Homo sapiens: one gene and its partners. The protein of the gene in region 2 interacts with the protein of the main gene of each other region in a pairwise test. Each region holds a gene or a part of one and is shown on either strand. Other genes may lie near its edges.

The links. Proteins that work in one complex are often made in the same cells at the same time.
Region 1: the proteins of SQLE (region 2) and ZNF641 interact in a two-hybrid assay, tested with the Homo sapiens proteins (one large-scale study listed by BioGRID and IntAct).
Region 3: the proteins of SQLE (region 2) and CREB3L1 interact in binary tests that used the Homo sapiens proteins (3 or more experiments, as listed by UniProt).

Annotation. Positions count from the first base shown.
Region 1 is NC_000012.12:48,343,444-48,348,801, forward strand, and holds part of ZNF641 (zinc finger protein 641), read right to left. Parts: intron 4,673-5,358; coding exon of another isoform or gene 4,648-4,672; coding exon 4,464-4,647; intron 3,901-4,463; coding exon 3,809-3,900; coding exon of another isoform or gene 3,706-3,808; intron 2,032-3,705; coding exon 1,902-2,031; intron 1,270-1,901; coding exon 1,156-1,269; intron 285-1,155; coding exon 1-284. UniProt on the Homo sapiens protein: Transcriptional activator. Activates transcriptional activities of SRE and AP-1.
Region 2 is NC_000008.11:125,011,136-125,016,493, forward strand, and holds part of SQLE (squalene monooxygenase), read left to right. Parts: intron 1-401; coding exon 402-497; intron 498-5,358. UniProt on the Homo sapiens protein: Catalyzes the stereospecific oxidation of squalene to (S)-2,3-epoxysqualene, and is considered to be a rate-limiting enzyme in steroid biosynthesis.
Region 3 is NC_000011.10:46,279,780-46,285,137, reverse strand, and holds part of CREB3L1 (cyclic AMP-responsive element-binding protein 3-like protein 1), read right to left. Parts: intron 1-5,358.

The sequences.
Region 1 (5,358 bases), on a different chromosome or scaffold from region 2:
ATGCCTGGCAAGGTGGGAACCCCATACAAACTGTTTCCCACACTGGGGGCATGTGTGGGGTCTTAACAGGGAATCCATCTCTGTGCTACACAGCAGGTTTGAGAAACTATCTTCCTGAAGAAAAGGGGGCCCCAGGAGCATTCCTCTGGAGCTGCTGGGCATGGAATCCCAGCTCTCATCATGCTCCGGGTTCCAGAGAACAGTATCTTCAGACACGCTGGATAACATTCTGGGAGGTTCTGCTTCTAGTTCAGGGGTATCCCCCTCATGTTCACTTCCATCTCCTGCGGAGAAGGGGAAATACCAACCCCAAGAGAAGAGTCACAAGAGAGTGCTTGAGGCCTAAGTCACAAATGAGGTTGTCTGATACCTGCCAGGGCCCAGACTTGACCCCAGAAGGGCTGAGAGAACATAGTCTAATGTCGTACAAGACAGTGCAATAGATATAGAGGTTAAAAGCCTAGGCTTAGGAGGCAGATTACCTAAGATGGAATCTCAGCTTTCCCACTTAACTTCCCTAAACCTTCATTTCTTCTGTAAAATTGGAATAATACCTCTCTCTCCGGCAGTTATAAGATAGATAGCACAGAACCTGCACATAGTTTAAGTACTTAGTAAATTGTATATGTTATTGTTATTATTTATTACCATTATTTATTTACTACTGTATATTACTATTAATCAGCATCTTTCTATCTAAGCATAGATGGAGAGAATTACAGAATGTGCCGCAATTGTCACTGGCTGAATGACACCTGTCGGCAGTCCTCAAGGCATTCCTGAAATGGGTGGGAGGTTGACAACAATATCAACAATAACAACAACTAACATTTATTGAGTGCTTATTATGTGCTTGGCACTGTTCTATTCTAATATTCTAATATATTCATATATTTAATTTTCACAATAATTTACAGATGAAGAAACCAAAGGGAGTTTTATTACTTTTCCAAGGTCCCACAACTACAGCCCAGAATTCAAATCCACAAAGTGCCTGCTACATCATTCTATTACACTCCCTTGCTTTTGAAGAAAAAAATCTCTAAACCTTTTGTCTCTGGAACTCTCTGAGGCAGAGGAGGGATTAAACGAACATGGAATGATGATGTCCCGAACTGTGAAGGAAGTGGCTGAAAGCCTATTCTAGGTTCTTACCTGTATATGTGACCCTCAGAATGTCCCTCTCCTCTAAGTCCTGGGGGTCAGGGACCCATTGTTCTTCTCCTCCTTCTAGTTGAGAAAGCATGTCCAGTTTGGGAATTGGAAATCCTGCTCATGGGAAAGGAAAATAGAGCTGTCAATTAGTTCAACAGCAATTCTATATTTCTGAAAAAAAAATACAAAAAACTGTTTCCTATTGTTTGGAACTCTAGACAAAAGAAGGTCAAGAAAGAAACATATCCCCACCCCAACCTCTTCCCCCACCCATTTCTGTTAAGTCCCTCTTCTCTGCCTAGAAAATCACTCTCCTTCCCAATGAACCTGTTTTCTTCCACTCAGATACTTCCAGCCCAGCTGGCCTTTCTGGGCGTAACTTCACTTTAGTCCTACTACGACAGTCCTACTCCCTGCATCCCTATCTTCCTCTACATGGTTCCCAAGTTTACAAGGACCCAGTTCCAGTTCTCTCTGCTTTATGAGAACCTCCTAATTCCCAACCAAGAAGAACCTCAAGTTCTACTCCACAATTAAGCATCATTTGCTTTTTTACTTTTTTTTTTTTAATGATATTTACTCTCATTCTCTTGGGATTGGCCCTAGTGTTCTTTCTCCAGCGGAAGCATAGACAGATTCCCTGCCACATAAAGAGTCCTAGACAGACACTATCCAATAGCCCTGAAGCAGATGGCTCCGTCCTCCCAGAGTCCAATCTTCTAGTGGCTGGAGAAGGTCATGCTTACTCAGAGAGACTACTATCCCACAGTTTTCCTGCATGACATATTCTCCATAAAAGTCTGTCTGAGAGGGGTCCAGGCTCCGCCACTCCTCCTGAGAGAAGCACAGTGACACATCCTTGATGGTTACCAGGCCCTGAAACAAAATGTAGCATCTTCTGTCAGCAGCTGTTTTTTAAGGAAAATGTGATTCAGTATGAAAGGCTAAGTTAGTAGAGGAGAGAGGGTGAGAAATGATCTGAGAAAAGAGCTGCCCAGAAGTCCCTGGGTAGGGCACATAGTTTTGGTAACAGGGAAATGAGGAGAGGAGTAAAGGTAGATGGTCAAGGAGTGAGTGAGTGTAATGTTACTGGAGGAATTTCCCAAGTGGGGCCATGAGAAGCTGGAGGCACCATAAACTCATCACCACCTCTGTTTAGCTACAGGTGTCTACTCAGTCACTTCTCCCTGGCCTTACTCTTTTTATGAAGAAATTATGTACCATTTCCTCCTTCTTCCACTGGACCCTGCCTTTTCTATCAGCACAAAATGCTACAGATAAAACATTCTTTCTTGCCTCCCTTGCCACAGCATTTTTTTTTTTTTGAGACGGAGTCTCACTGTCGCCCAGGCTGGAGTGCAGTAGCACAATCTTGGCTCACCGCAACCTCCACCTCCCAGGTTCAAGCGATTCTCCTGTCTCAGCCTCCCAAGTAGCTGGAATTACAGGCACCCACCACTACACCCAGCTATTTTTTTTGTGGTGTTAGTAGAGACGGGGTTTCACCATGTTGGCCAGGCTGGTCTCGAACTCCTGACCTTGTGATTTGCCCACCTCGGCCTCCCAAAGTGCTGGGATTACAGGCATGAGCCACCGTGCCTGGCCATATCTTTATATTTTTAGGCAGCACAGTATGGTGGTTAGGAGCTCAGAATCTGGAGCCAAGTGACTCAGCTTTGCCACTTTCTTGCAGCATGACCTACACAAGTGCCTTAATCTCTCCCTGCCCCATTTCCTCATCTGTAAAATTGGATAACTGAGTTGTTCTCAGAATTAAATGAGTTAATATACATAAAGCACCCAGAAAATGGCATACATGATAAACACTCTGGGGGTGTACTCTATTAGTACTAACACTATTAGTATTAGCTTTCCACAGCTCTCCTATTGCCTTCTGAATCTAAACCTAATTTCCTTTCTAGCTCTGCCCCTCTTTATAACCTTCTTCCTCTTCTTTTCCATAAATGCTCCCTCATCTACCCAATCCTTCCACTTTAGGTTCTTCTAAGCTTTCTTCAGGTCCTCTTTTCCTAATCTTTCCAGATTTATTTCTTAAAGGAAGGTAATTAATTATTCTTAAAATCCTCCTGTGGATAACAAACACAGCCATCCATTAAAAACCCTAACCTTGGCCAGGCACGGTGGCTCATACCTGTGACCCCAGCACTTTGGGAGGCTGAGGTGGGCAGATCACCTGACGTCAGCAGTTCAAGACCAGCCTGGCCAACGTGGCAAAACCTTGTCTCTACTAAAAACACAAAAATTAGCTAGGTGTGGTGGCGTGTGCCAGTAGTCCCAGCTACTTGGGAGGCTGAAGCACAAGAATCGCTTGAACCCAGAAGGTGGAGGTTGCAGGGAGCCAAGATCATACCACTGCACTCCAACCAGGGCAACACAGTGAGATTCTGTCTCAAAAACAAAAAACAAAACAAAACTCAAAAAAACCCTAACCTCAAGGAATTCCCTTTCTTGTAGGTCCATTTAATTTTCCAAGGGTCTTATGACCCCTTGGAAAGGGATAGAATCTATTCAGTTATAAGATGAACATACCATTGATGATCATGTGAGCCAACTCATCAATGGGCTGATGCGAAAGCAATACAAAGGCAGCAGTGATGGGACCACAGGAGACGCCAAGGGAAGCAGAGCTCACCTGTGATCCAGCCGCAAGAAGTGCAGCTGCCATCTCCCAGTCTCCAGTGTTCCCCTCCTGGGGAATTGCAGGAACCCAGGGAGCAGACTGAGCTGATAAGGAGAGAGAAGAAACATTAGAGAATAACGATCTACCCTTTCTCAATGGGGCCTGGGCCCCATTTTAGAGAGGCTTAAGGGTCACAACTTCTGTATCTATGCCCATTGGTAAAACTCAAATGCATAAATGTAGATGAGAAGGCCATCACTCAAAATGTTCTGAAAGGGTATCAGATGGCTTTTAGTTAGACTAGCTATAGTTTGAATTTACAGTACTTGAATGTAATTTTCATCTAGTAAATTACATCTTACTGAGTGGGTTATCCAACAGTAATCAGGTTGCTGTCACTTCCTTCATCTCCCTCATTCAGTATCACTAATTATGCATTTGCATGTGGAGGGAGTAATTATGAAGAAACAAGAGAAGCCCAGTTGCATGGTTTGCTGAATTCAGGAGCCTATTCTGTACCTGTGACCAGGGCTGAGAAAGAATGGGCTGGTCCTGGTACAGGTTATGCTATTTAGTCCATGGCAATTTGGAGATTTTTAACCCTACTTTTGGAATAAATATTAGGAGACTATGCACTGTGCTTCCCACACACTCTGTGAGTTCTCACCCTTCTCCTGAAGGGACTGTGGCTCCTCTTCAAGGTCACAGCACAGGTGCTCCAGAGGTCCTGGTACTGTTCTCCATGGCCGCTCTTCCTGGCTTCCCCTTTCCACCTGGGGCTCTGCTCCATCCAGCTGTACATTCATTGATTCCCATCCTGTCCCCAGCGCTGCTGTCTGTTCTGAAAGCATTTCTGCTGCAGACCCAAATTGTGACCTGGAACAAATTCATATCAGCAATGCCCATGAAAATGGGAAAGGAGTGATATTTCTAAGGGAGTTATGAAGAACAGGCCCAGGGATAATAGACAAAACTAGATAGGAGGAGCTTGCTGGAAGATGAACTTTAAAAGCTTGATGTGTTCCGATCAACGGAGCCTGCACCAAGCTTCTTGGAGGAACTAAGAAATTGGCAGGTGCTACGTAGCAAAGCCACTAACTGGTATTTTGTGGACCTCATTATAGAAACAGAATATACCTGAAGGTTAGAAGAAGTTCATTTAAAAAAAAAGAACTGTCCTGGAAATTCAAAGGCTATCCATTTAATTTCAAGCACATGAAGTACAGGAAAGTAAGCAATTTGGAAACATACAGGAAGAAATACATATAGACCTGCACTCAACAAGATGGATGTAATCACACAGAAGATTTTCTGCCACAAATCACAGTCTCATCAGTTTAGAATGAAATGATTACTATAGGTAAAAGTCCCAACCAAGGGGCGTATTTGTATCATGAGGCTGGGCCAAAAGGTACCTCACTTGGGACAAGCCTCAATAAAAAGGCACTTGGTCTACCATCCAATGAAAACTGGTAGTAAATATGGTAGAAAAACTGATAACTTGGAAAGCAGGTGTTAAGACTCCAAAGTAATCCTAAGAGGTAAGAGAAATTGTTGGTCTG
Region 2 (5,358 bases):
ATTGGTAGTGTATTTCATCTGATTATTACAAGAATATATTGATTATAATACATTAAATATTAAATATGACAGTAGTCTGTTAACATTTGGAAGAAAGGTAGGTGGTTTTCTCCCTGTTTCATTTCATCTGAATTTGCCTCATTGTTTTTTCATTCAGTTGTATGTATGTTTATATTAATGTTCTCTTAGATTCCTTAGTCATTCCTTGGCATTAACAGCTAAGTGCTTAATGAATAATTTTATTAATGAAATAATTAGTTCTTGATTTATCACAAGGGATATATGTAACAACCATAACAGATGTATAGTAGGCATTTGTTTATACTTGATAAGAAAATATGTGATACTTTGAAATTGAAGTGTTATGACCCATTTCTTTGGGTTGGTGGGATTTATTGCAGATCACCTGAAAGAACCATTCTTAGAAGCCACTGACAATTCTCATCTGAGGTCCATGCCAGCAAGCTTCCTTCCTCCTTCATCAGTGAAGAAACGAGGTATTATTTTTTGGGCTTATTTTATAAAGGAATCAGTATTCCAAATGACAAATATATGATTAAATTTATACTGTTACGAATAACTTCTGGGACAGATAGTTTGTCACTGTGGATTAGTGCATTATTAATACCAAAATTAGTTTTATGATCTATTTAGTTGTTAACATTGAGTGTATACAAGTATTGTGCTAGTCAGGGAAACAACAGGTAAAAAACTGACCTTGACCTAGAGAAGGCAATTTTCTACTTAGGAATGTAGACAGATAATTTTACAACACTGTTGATAAATAAAACCCACAGATTCAGTGTCAAGAAGTGTGCAGAGCAGGGAGGGAAGCTTGTGAAATGGGAGGGGTAGTTAGGGAGGACGTTGTTCAGGAAACAGTGGAAACAAAGGACCTTGGACCTGGAGGATGAGTGGGAGTTCATGAGGTGGACACTAAGATGAGGAACTTCTAGGTAGATGGAATAACATTGCCAAAGGATGAGAAATGGTGGCACTTTCAAGGAACTCAAGCAGTTTCCTATGGCAGGAGCATAGGGTGGGTGTCAGAGTGGGAGACAGACCATTAACATTTAATCTTACAGACAATGGAAAGTCATTTGAAGTGTTTTCTTGTTACTAACTTTATTGATATATAATTCACAAATCAGTTTGCCCATTTAAAGTGTACAGTACAGTGACTTTTTTAGTATATTCACAGTGTGTGCATCACCACCACAATCAAATTTAGAACATTTTTATCTTGCCCAAAGAAACCCCGTACCCATTGGTATTCACTCCCCATTTCCTCCCAACACTCAGCCCTAGGCTACCCCTAATTTACTTTCTGTGTCTAGATTTGTCTATTTGGGATGTTTCCTAAAGGCATTGTATAGTAAAGCCCTTTGGAACTGGCTTTTCATTTAGCACAATGTTTTTGAGGTTCATTCATGTTGTAGCATGTTTCAGTTCTTCATTTGTTTTTATGGCCAAATAATCTTCCATTGTGTGGCTATATTACATTTTGTTTAGCCATTCATCAATTGATAGATATTTGGGTTGTTTCTACTTTTTGGTTATTACAAGCAATGCTGCTATGAACATCTGTGTGCGAGTTTTTGTGTGGACATATATTTTCATTTTTCTTGGTTATATACCCAAGAGTGATATTGCTGGATTACATAGTAGTTCACGTTTAACTTTTTGAGGAGCTGCTAGACTTGTTTTCCAAAATAGCTGTCCCAGTTACATTCCTTTCAGCAGTGTGTGAGTTCTAATTTCTCCACATCCTTGTCAGTGAACACTTGTATTATCTTTGTGTGCATAGCCATCCTAGTAGTGTGAACTAGGCCTTTTATCATTGTGCTGATTTGCATTTCTCTCATAGATAATGATGTTGAACATCTTTTCATATGCATATAGGCCATTTGTTGTTTGGAGAAATGTATATTTAGACTTTGCATATTTTTTTAATTGGGCAGATTTAAAATTTATGTATTGTTGAGTTTCAAGAGTCCTTTATATATTTTAGGTACAAGTCCCTTATTAGATATGTGATTTGCAAAATTTTTCTCATTCTGTGGGTTTTCTTTCCATTCTTCTTAATGGTTTCCATTGAAGTACACATGGTTTAAATTTTCATGTTTATTTTTTCTTTCGTTGCTTGTGCTTTTGATGTCATATTTAGGAAGGCTTTGTCCAATCTAAGTTCAAAAAGATTTACTCCTATGTTTTCTTTTTCTTTTTTTTTTTTTGAGATGGAGTTTCGCTCTTGTCGCCTAGGCTGGAGTGCGATGGTGCGATCTCGGCTCATTGCAACCTCGGCCTCCCAGGTTCAAGCAATTCTCCTGCCTCAGCCTCCCGAGTAGCTGGGATTATAGGTGCTCGCCACCGTGCCCAGCTAATTTTTGTATTTTTAGTAGAGACGGGGTTTCGCCATGTTGGCCAGGCTGGTCTCAAACTCCTGACCTCAGGTGATCCACCCACCTCAGCCTCCCAAAGTCCTGGGATTACAGGCATGAGCCACCATGCCTGGCCTGTTACTCCTATATTTTCTTCTAAGAGTTTTATAGTTTTACCTCTTAAATTTAGCTCTTTGATCCATTTTGAGTTAAATTTTGTGTCTGTTGAGAGGAAGGGGTCCAGCTTGATTTGTTTGTGTGTGGATATTCAGTTGTCCCAGTATCATTTGTTGAAAAGACTGTTTGTTCCCCAGTGAATTTTCTTGCCCTTGTGGTCAAAATTCCCTTGACTGAAAGGTAAGGGTTTCTTTCAACAATATTTTGTAGTTTTCAGAGTATAAGTTTTGCATTTCTTTTGTTAAATTTATTCCTAAGTATTTTACCTTTTTTGATACTTTTGTAAATGGAATTTTCTTAAAGAGGCAGTGGCATGATTAGACTTTTATTTCAGGAATATACTCTGACATTTTTGTGGAGGATGGTTTGGAGGAAAGTCTAGTAAAACATACACTAAGATTAATTATTCTGTCAATGATGATAAAAGGCCAGAACTAGGGTTGTAAAATGAAAGGTAATGAATAAATTTGGGTAATATCTAGGATGTAGAATGTAAAAAACGTGATGATTTGGATATTATAATGAGAGTGAAATCTCTTGATGTAAATTCCAGGTTTCTGGCTTAGATAGTTTTGCCAGCCATTTGCTGACATAGGAACAGGAAAAGGAGTTAATTGGGTTTTCTTTCTTTTTTCTTAGTTTGTCTTAAAGGTTTGCTGATTTTATCTTTTCAAAGAACCAACTTTTCATTTTGTTATCTTTTGTATTTTTTTCATTTCATTTATTTTGGCTCTGATCTTTATTATTTTCTACTAATTTGGGGTTTGGTTTGCTCTTGCTTTTCTGGTTGAGATGCACTGTTAGGTTGTTTATTTGATGTTTTCCTGCTTTTTTGATGTAGGCACTTACTGCTAAAAACTTTCCCTTTAAGTATTGCTTTTGCTGTGTCTCACAGGTTTTATATATTGTCTTTGCATTTTTATTTCTATCAAGAAATTTTTATATTTACTTCTTAATTTCTTCATTGACCCACTGGTCATTCAAGAGCATGTGGTTTAATTTCCATGTGTTTGTATACACAGTCTCCAAAGTTCCTCATAGTACTGATTTCTAGTTTTATTCCACTGTGGTCAGAGAAGATACTTGATATGATTTCAATTGTTTTTTGAATTTTTTAAGCCTTGTTTTGTGGCCTACCCATGATCTATCCTTGTGAATGATCGATTTGCTGAGGAGAAGAATGTGTATTCTGCAGTTGTTGGATGAAATGTTCTGTGAATATTTGTTAGGTCTGTTTGGCCTGTAGTCCAGATTAAGTCTGATGTTTGTTGTTTATCTGTCTGGATGATCTATTCAGTGCTGAAGGTGGGGTGTTGAAGTCTCCAGCCATGATTGTATTGGGGTCTGTCTCCTTAGCTCTAATAATATTTCCTTTATATATCTGAGTGCTCCGGTATTGGGTGCATATGTAATTGTTACATCCTCTTGCTGAATTGACCCCTTTATCATTATCTAATGACCTTCTTTGCCTCTTTTTATAGTTTTTGTCTTGAAATCTATTTTACTGATGTAAATATCACTATGCTCTTTTTTGGTTTCCATTTGCATGGAATATCTTTTTCCATCCCTTCATTTTCAGTCTCTTTGTGGCTTTATAGGTGAAGTGTGTTTATTTTAGGCAGCAGATCGTTGGTTCTTTTTTTAAATCCATTCAGCCACTTACGCCTTTCGAGTGGAGTTTAGTCCATCTACATTGAATGTTATTATTGGTAAGTGCGTACTATTGCCATTTTGTTTTTGTTTTCTGATTGTTTTGCTGTCTTTTCTTCCGTCCTGTTTCCTTTCTGTGAAGGTAATTTTCTCTGGTAGTATGTTTTAATTTCTTGCTTTTAATTTTTTTGCCTACCTCTTGTAGGCTTTTGATTTGAAATTACCAGGAAGCTTGCAGGTCATATCTTATAACCGATTATTTTAAACTGATGACAACTGATTCCACAAACGAGCAGAGAAAACTAATAAAAACTCTACACTTTATCCTCCTTGCTTTTTAACTTTTGTGAGTTTTGTACCTTCATGTAATTGCTTACTGCTCGTTAAGGTCCTTTTCTTTTAGATTGAAGAACTCACTTCGGCATTTCTTGTGGGAAAGTTTGGTGTTGATGAAGTCCCTCGGCTTTTGTTTGTCTGGGAAAGTCTTTATTTCTCCTTCATGTTTGAAGGATATTTTCACTGGATATACTATTGTAGCATAAAAGTTCTTTTCCTTCAGCACTTTCAGTGTGTCTTGCCCCTCTCTCCTGGCCTGTAAGATTTCCACTAAGTCTACTGCCAGACATACTAGAGCTCCATTGTTTGTTGTTTCCTTTCTCTTGTTGCTCTTAGGATCTTTTCTATATCCTTGACCTTTGGGAGTTTGATTATTAAATGGCTTGAACTAGTCTTGTTTGGATTAAATCAATCACCAATCCTTGCTTGGTGTTCTGTAGCTTTCTTGTGCTTGAATATTGATATCTTTCTCTAGATTTGGGAAGTTCTCTGTTATTTTTTCTTCAAATAAACTTTCTACCCTCATCTTTCTATCTCCTTTTAAAGGCCAAGAACTTAGATTTGCTCTTTTGAAATTATTTTCTAGATCTTGTAGGTGTGCCTCATTCTTGATTATTCTTTTTTCTTTTGTCTCCTCTGTGTATTTTCAAATAGCCTGTTTTCAAGCTTACTAATTCTTTCTTCTGCTTGATCAGTTCTACTGTTGAGATTCTGCCATGTTCTTCAGTAAGTTAATTGAATTTTTTATCTCCAGAATTTCTGCTTGATTCTTTTAAATTATTTCAGTTGTTTTGTTAAACTTACCTGATAGCAT
Region 3 (5,358 bases), on a different chromosome or scaffold from region 2:
GTCCTTTATGCTCCCCTCTCCTGGTGCAGTAGCCAGGCCAGGCCAGGGCAGACAGAAACAGAGTCTCCTGAGGAGTCCTGGGAGCTGCAGAGAGCAAAGATCCAAGTCCCCAGAAGGGCTGGGGAACAGCATCCTGGGGGTGAATCTGATAGGGTGTGAAATGGGATGTGGGAGCTTATTCAGGGGATCTGGTTTTGCCCATAAAGCTCTAGGCATCCAAGGTGCCCTAAGGATGGGAGTGGGTGAGGATGAAGACAGGGACCCTGTGATATGAAAGATCCTGAATTTTCCTTGCTCTAGAGGGGAAATCTCAAACTAGAACAATGAGAGAACTTGCTTGTAGCTTCTTCTTGCTCCCCTCTTTGACTCTCCATAGGACTCCTGCCCTTGAGCAGAGTGCACAATGGATAATAATGCCTATACGTGTTCAGTAAAAGGAACATGGCCCCAGTCCCTGTGGAAATGCCTTTTTTTTTTTTTTTGGAGATGGAGTTTTGCCCTTGTTGCCCAGACTGGAGTGCAATGGTGCGATCTTGGCTCACTGCAATCTCCACCTCCTGGGTTCAAGCGATTCTCCTGGCTCAGCCTCCCAAGTAGCTGGGATTACAGGCACATGCCACCATGCCTGGCTAATTTTTTTGGTATTTTTAGTAGAGATGGGGTTTCACCATGTTGGTCAGGCTGGTCTCAAACTCCTGAACTCAGGTGATCCACCTGCCTCAGCCTCCCAAAGTGTTGGTATTATGGGCATGAGCTACCATGCCTGGCCAGAAAAGCCTTCTAATAACTCCTTTGCCACTAAGGAAGAGGGAAATTGGGGCAGCATGTGCAGAGATCACCTTCTGAGAAAGCTTTCATGACCTGTAGCCTGGCTCAGCCTCCTGCCATGCTCTGCTCCATCATGGCGCCCACCATGGTGTTGATACTGCCTATTTCCCTCTCTGTCTCTCTCATTCGTCCGCGATTGACTGGAGGGTCAAGTGTGTTTTCTTCATCTGGGTTACCCTGGCACCAGCATAGATGTTCCTTCAGTGCCCAGTTGCTGAAGGAATGGACATGTGTATTAATGAATGAGCAAGTGAATTCCCAGCTGGTCCAGGGAAGCCGGAGGGACCTCACAACATATCGGGGCACAGACAGCACTTCTGTGGGACCCAGCATCCCCACCACCCTAAGGGATGGCCAGTCCAGGATCCTGAAAACCCCAGGATCCCTTCAGGAATCATAAGTACACCTCTTGAACACTTAGATCTGATTTTTTGGGTCTTGCTCTGTTGCCCAGGCTGGAGTGCAGTGGCGTGATAATAGCTCACTGCAGCCTTGAACTCCTGGGCTCAAGTGATCATCCCACATCAGTCTCCTAAGCAGCCAGGACTTCAGGTATGTGCCACCATGCCTGGATAATTTATTTTTTATTTTTTGTAGAGACGGAGTCTTTCTGTGTTGCCCAGGCTGGTCTCAAACTCTTGGCCTCAAGTGATCCCCCTGCCTCCGCCTCCCAAAGTACTGGAATTACAGGTGTGAGCCACCACATCCAGCCTGGGATTTTTTTAAAACAATTTTTCCCTTCCCTTACAAGGATTGCCCCAGTCTAAAGTAATTTTCTCTACAAATATAGTAAGTCCTTGAAATAGAGCAAAGTTCACTACAATGTGACCCAAACTTGACTTCTGTTCTATGCTCAGGCCCCTTCTCAAATAAAAGTGAGCAAAACTCCATTCTCTATGGGGCTGGTAAAAAAAAGTGACTGCCTCATGCTCCTGTGGTACTCTTTCTGTTTGGTCTGCTTTGTGCAGTAAGGTGTCACAATTTTTACTTTCCTGCTTTTTGTGATAGTACAGACCATCTGAAAAATACTGTTTTTCGTTAATTCTACAAAAATATTACTCCACATTTTATGTAATTGGAAAATTTATTTTTAAATTTGTATTATTATTATTACTTTTAGAGACAGGGTCTGGCTTTGTTGCCCAGGCTGGAGTGCAGTGATGCCATTATGGCTCACTGCAGTCCCAACCTCCCCAGCCCAAGTGATCCTCCCTCCTCAGCCTCCTAAGTGGCTGGGACCACAGGCATATGCCACCATGCCCGGCTCATTTTTTTTTTATTTTTTGTAGAGACGAGGTCTCCCTATGTTGCCCAGACTGGTCTTGAACTCCTGGGCTCAAGCAATCCTCCTACCTTGGTCTCCCAAAGCATTGAGATTACAAGCATGAGTCACCGCAAAGGAACATAATTGGAAATTTTTGACTGGGCATATTTATTGCATTATTGTAGAATTTTACTACATTGAGCATCTATTTTGTCCCATGTGACTGTGCTAGGTTTATGTCAATGCACAAAACTGATATGGACTCTCCTCTTATGGAACTTACTTTCTCGTGGAGGAAATAGACAATAGGCCATTAAAATAATTGCAAACTGGGTTAAGGGCTAGAAGATATCAAAAGACTAAAACAGAAAAGAACAGGGGGGTCCCACTTTAGGTAGTCAGGGAGCGTTCCCTAAGGAGGCAATATTTGAGCTGGGATCAGAAGGCTGAGATGGACAGACTGGGGGAAAAGCAGTCCAGATGACAGGAACAGCATGTGCAAGGGCTCTGAGGCAGGGCTGGAAAAGGCTTAGTCTTAAATTGGGTGAGTATGGATCCAGGAGTCCTAGAGCAATCTGAAGAAGAAACTGGGGAAAACGGAAGCCCTAGAGACAGTGCTCAAGAGTGACACCTGAGCCACAAGTTCAAATCCCCTGTGGGTCAGCCAGCTGTAGACTATTCTAGACCAGGGGCTGCAGAGGCCTGTGCAGTAGGGGGATGGCTCAAGGTAATGAGAACTCATTAAAAACCATGGAGAGCCCTTCCTGGACCCCAGAGACAGTGCAGGGTCTGCAGGACCTCGATGGCTGCAAATAGATGGGCTTAAGGACACTTTTCCCTCTTCTCTAAGAATGTGGGGTCTGGTTTGGGCCCCTTTTTCTTCATCCATCCATCCATTCATTCATCCATCCATCGATTTATTCATTCATCAACGGTTGTTAGGCACTGGGATACAGCAGTGAACAAGACAGACCAAGCCCCTGACTCAAGGAACTGTTCCCTCAACACTGGGGGAAGCAAAACCCAAATCAAACCTCTGCTCAAAACGAACTTAATGTTTTGATAGAGTAGGTATCAGAGGTCTCCTTTCTGAATAGGCACCCTGAGATTTGGGCTCCTCCAGTAGGTTTTTCATTAGATCTTTTCTAGCAGATTGCACTCTGAGACCAGAGTGCCTTAGCACTTCTGTCCTCTTTCCTGTTGGTGAGAACTTAAACAGAAACACACACAAATCTCCCCTTTTAAGGACTGTTAAAGGCCCACCCACAGACATAGGAACACCCAAACACACATACTTCTCTAATCTCCCTAAATCTCCCGAAGGCTGGGGGTGGGGGTGCCTCTCTGCTTCCCAGTTAGCTCAGGAGAAGCCAGGCTAGGCGTGTGGGGAGTAGCGATCAGCCTTAGCCCCCACCGCCTCCCCGCAATGCTGGGCTGGTCCCTGGGTCCCCGTCACTCCCACACCTGGCCTCCCCAGCTGCAGGGAGTAAACGGGTGTGCTGGGCAAACATCCTTGCAGCTTCCTGCTGCTCCCCTCTGAGAAAACAGACCTTTTCTTCCTCCTCCTTCTCCTCCCCACACCCTCCCAGCTGGGGCTTCTCTGGGATCCCAAGCCAGTTCCCTCTAGAGAAGCCAGACATCCCTTCCCCTTAGCCAGAGGAAGGAGGGGACAGCACACAGACCTAGTGTTTCCATCTGGAGAAACGACCTGCTCTCCCTCTGGTCCTTTATCCCAGTTCTTGGAGCCCAGACCCTCTCTCTCATACTGGCCAAGGGGCTGAAGGACCACAGAGTACAGTGGCTCAAGGGTGGCCACATCAGAAACCATGGGAGAGCGGGAGGGGCAGGGAGGAGATGCCCCCACATGGGACAGGAAGGGCAGCCCCCTTCTGAGGATCTCTGAGAATCGCATAAACAGAATTGCAGCAACATGAAGGTATCCTCATAGAAAGAAAAATAAGGCAGCCCAGCCACCTCCAAACACACTTGTCTTGACTTTGTGTACTCACTCTCCTGTCTGTCCAAGTGCATGCGTATTTCTTGCATAGTTGTTTTCAGGGTGAGCATACATTTTGCATTTTGCACAGAGCAACAGAGCACACATGATTTCCACATGATTTATGGCCCGTATCTGGATTTTTAAGGAGGATAGCGAATATTCTGCTCTCCATTTTCCAGACTGAGAGGCACACAGACGCCATCCCTACCCATCCTTAACCCTGGAAACATTTTCCTATCCTCATGCAGAATGAAGAAGTTGGGGGAAGGGTTGGAATGGGATCTCAGCTGGAAAGAACCTCGGATATGGAGATGGAGACCCCAGAGAAGGAAAGTGACTTGCTATGTTCACACAGCAACTCGTAGCTGAGCAATTCTCACTATCACGCCCATCCAGTCTCTATGGATCAAGCCAACGATGAACGTTACATGCCAGGCATTGTGCTACATAACCTTCACTTTAATTTTCTCTCGAAATGCTTACAGTAATGCTATAGTTCTAATATTCCCATTTTTCAGATGAGGAAGTCAAAGCCCAGAAGAAGAAAAGTCACTTTTGGCCGGGCGCAGTGGCTCAAGCCTGTAATCCCAGCACTTTGGGAGGCCGAGGTGGGTGGATCACGAGGTCAGGAGATCAAGACCATCCTGGCTAACACGGTGAAACCCCGTCTCTACTAAAAATATAAAAAAAAATTAGCCGGGCGTGGTGGCGGGTGCCTGTAGTCCCAGCTACTCGGGACGCTGAGACAGGAGAATGGCGTGAACCCGGGAGGCGGAGCTTGCAGTGAGCCGAGATCGCGCCACTGCACTCCAGCCTGGGCGACAGAGCAAGACTCCGTCTGAAAAAAAACAAAAAACAAAAAACAAAAAAAAAAACAAGAAAAGAAAAGTCACTTTTCTGAATTGTCCCGCTGGCTGGTGGCAGAAACAGAGACAGAATTAAATCTCCTGATTCCCAGCCCAAGAGTCCTTTCTCTCTTTCCTTAGGCACCCCATCTTCTCCCGCTGCCTCTCCTGGCGCTGCCCCAGGTGCGAGATCAGGAGCCTCCCCAGCAGGGCTTTTCCTCCCCAGTGTCCTAGTGCTGGATCCCACTGTCTGGTCGTGCCTCTTTTCCTGTGCTGGACCAAGGCCCAGATAAGCAGCTGGGGATGCAGGGCTGAATGGAGCAGCAGGAAGAGGCTTCGGGCGGCCGAGTTCATTCAGAAGAAAGCCCAACTCAGAGCTGCCAAGGGCCGAGAGAAGCTTACTGCAGGGCTCTACTGCCCTG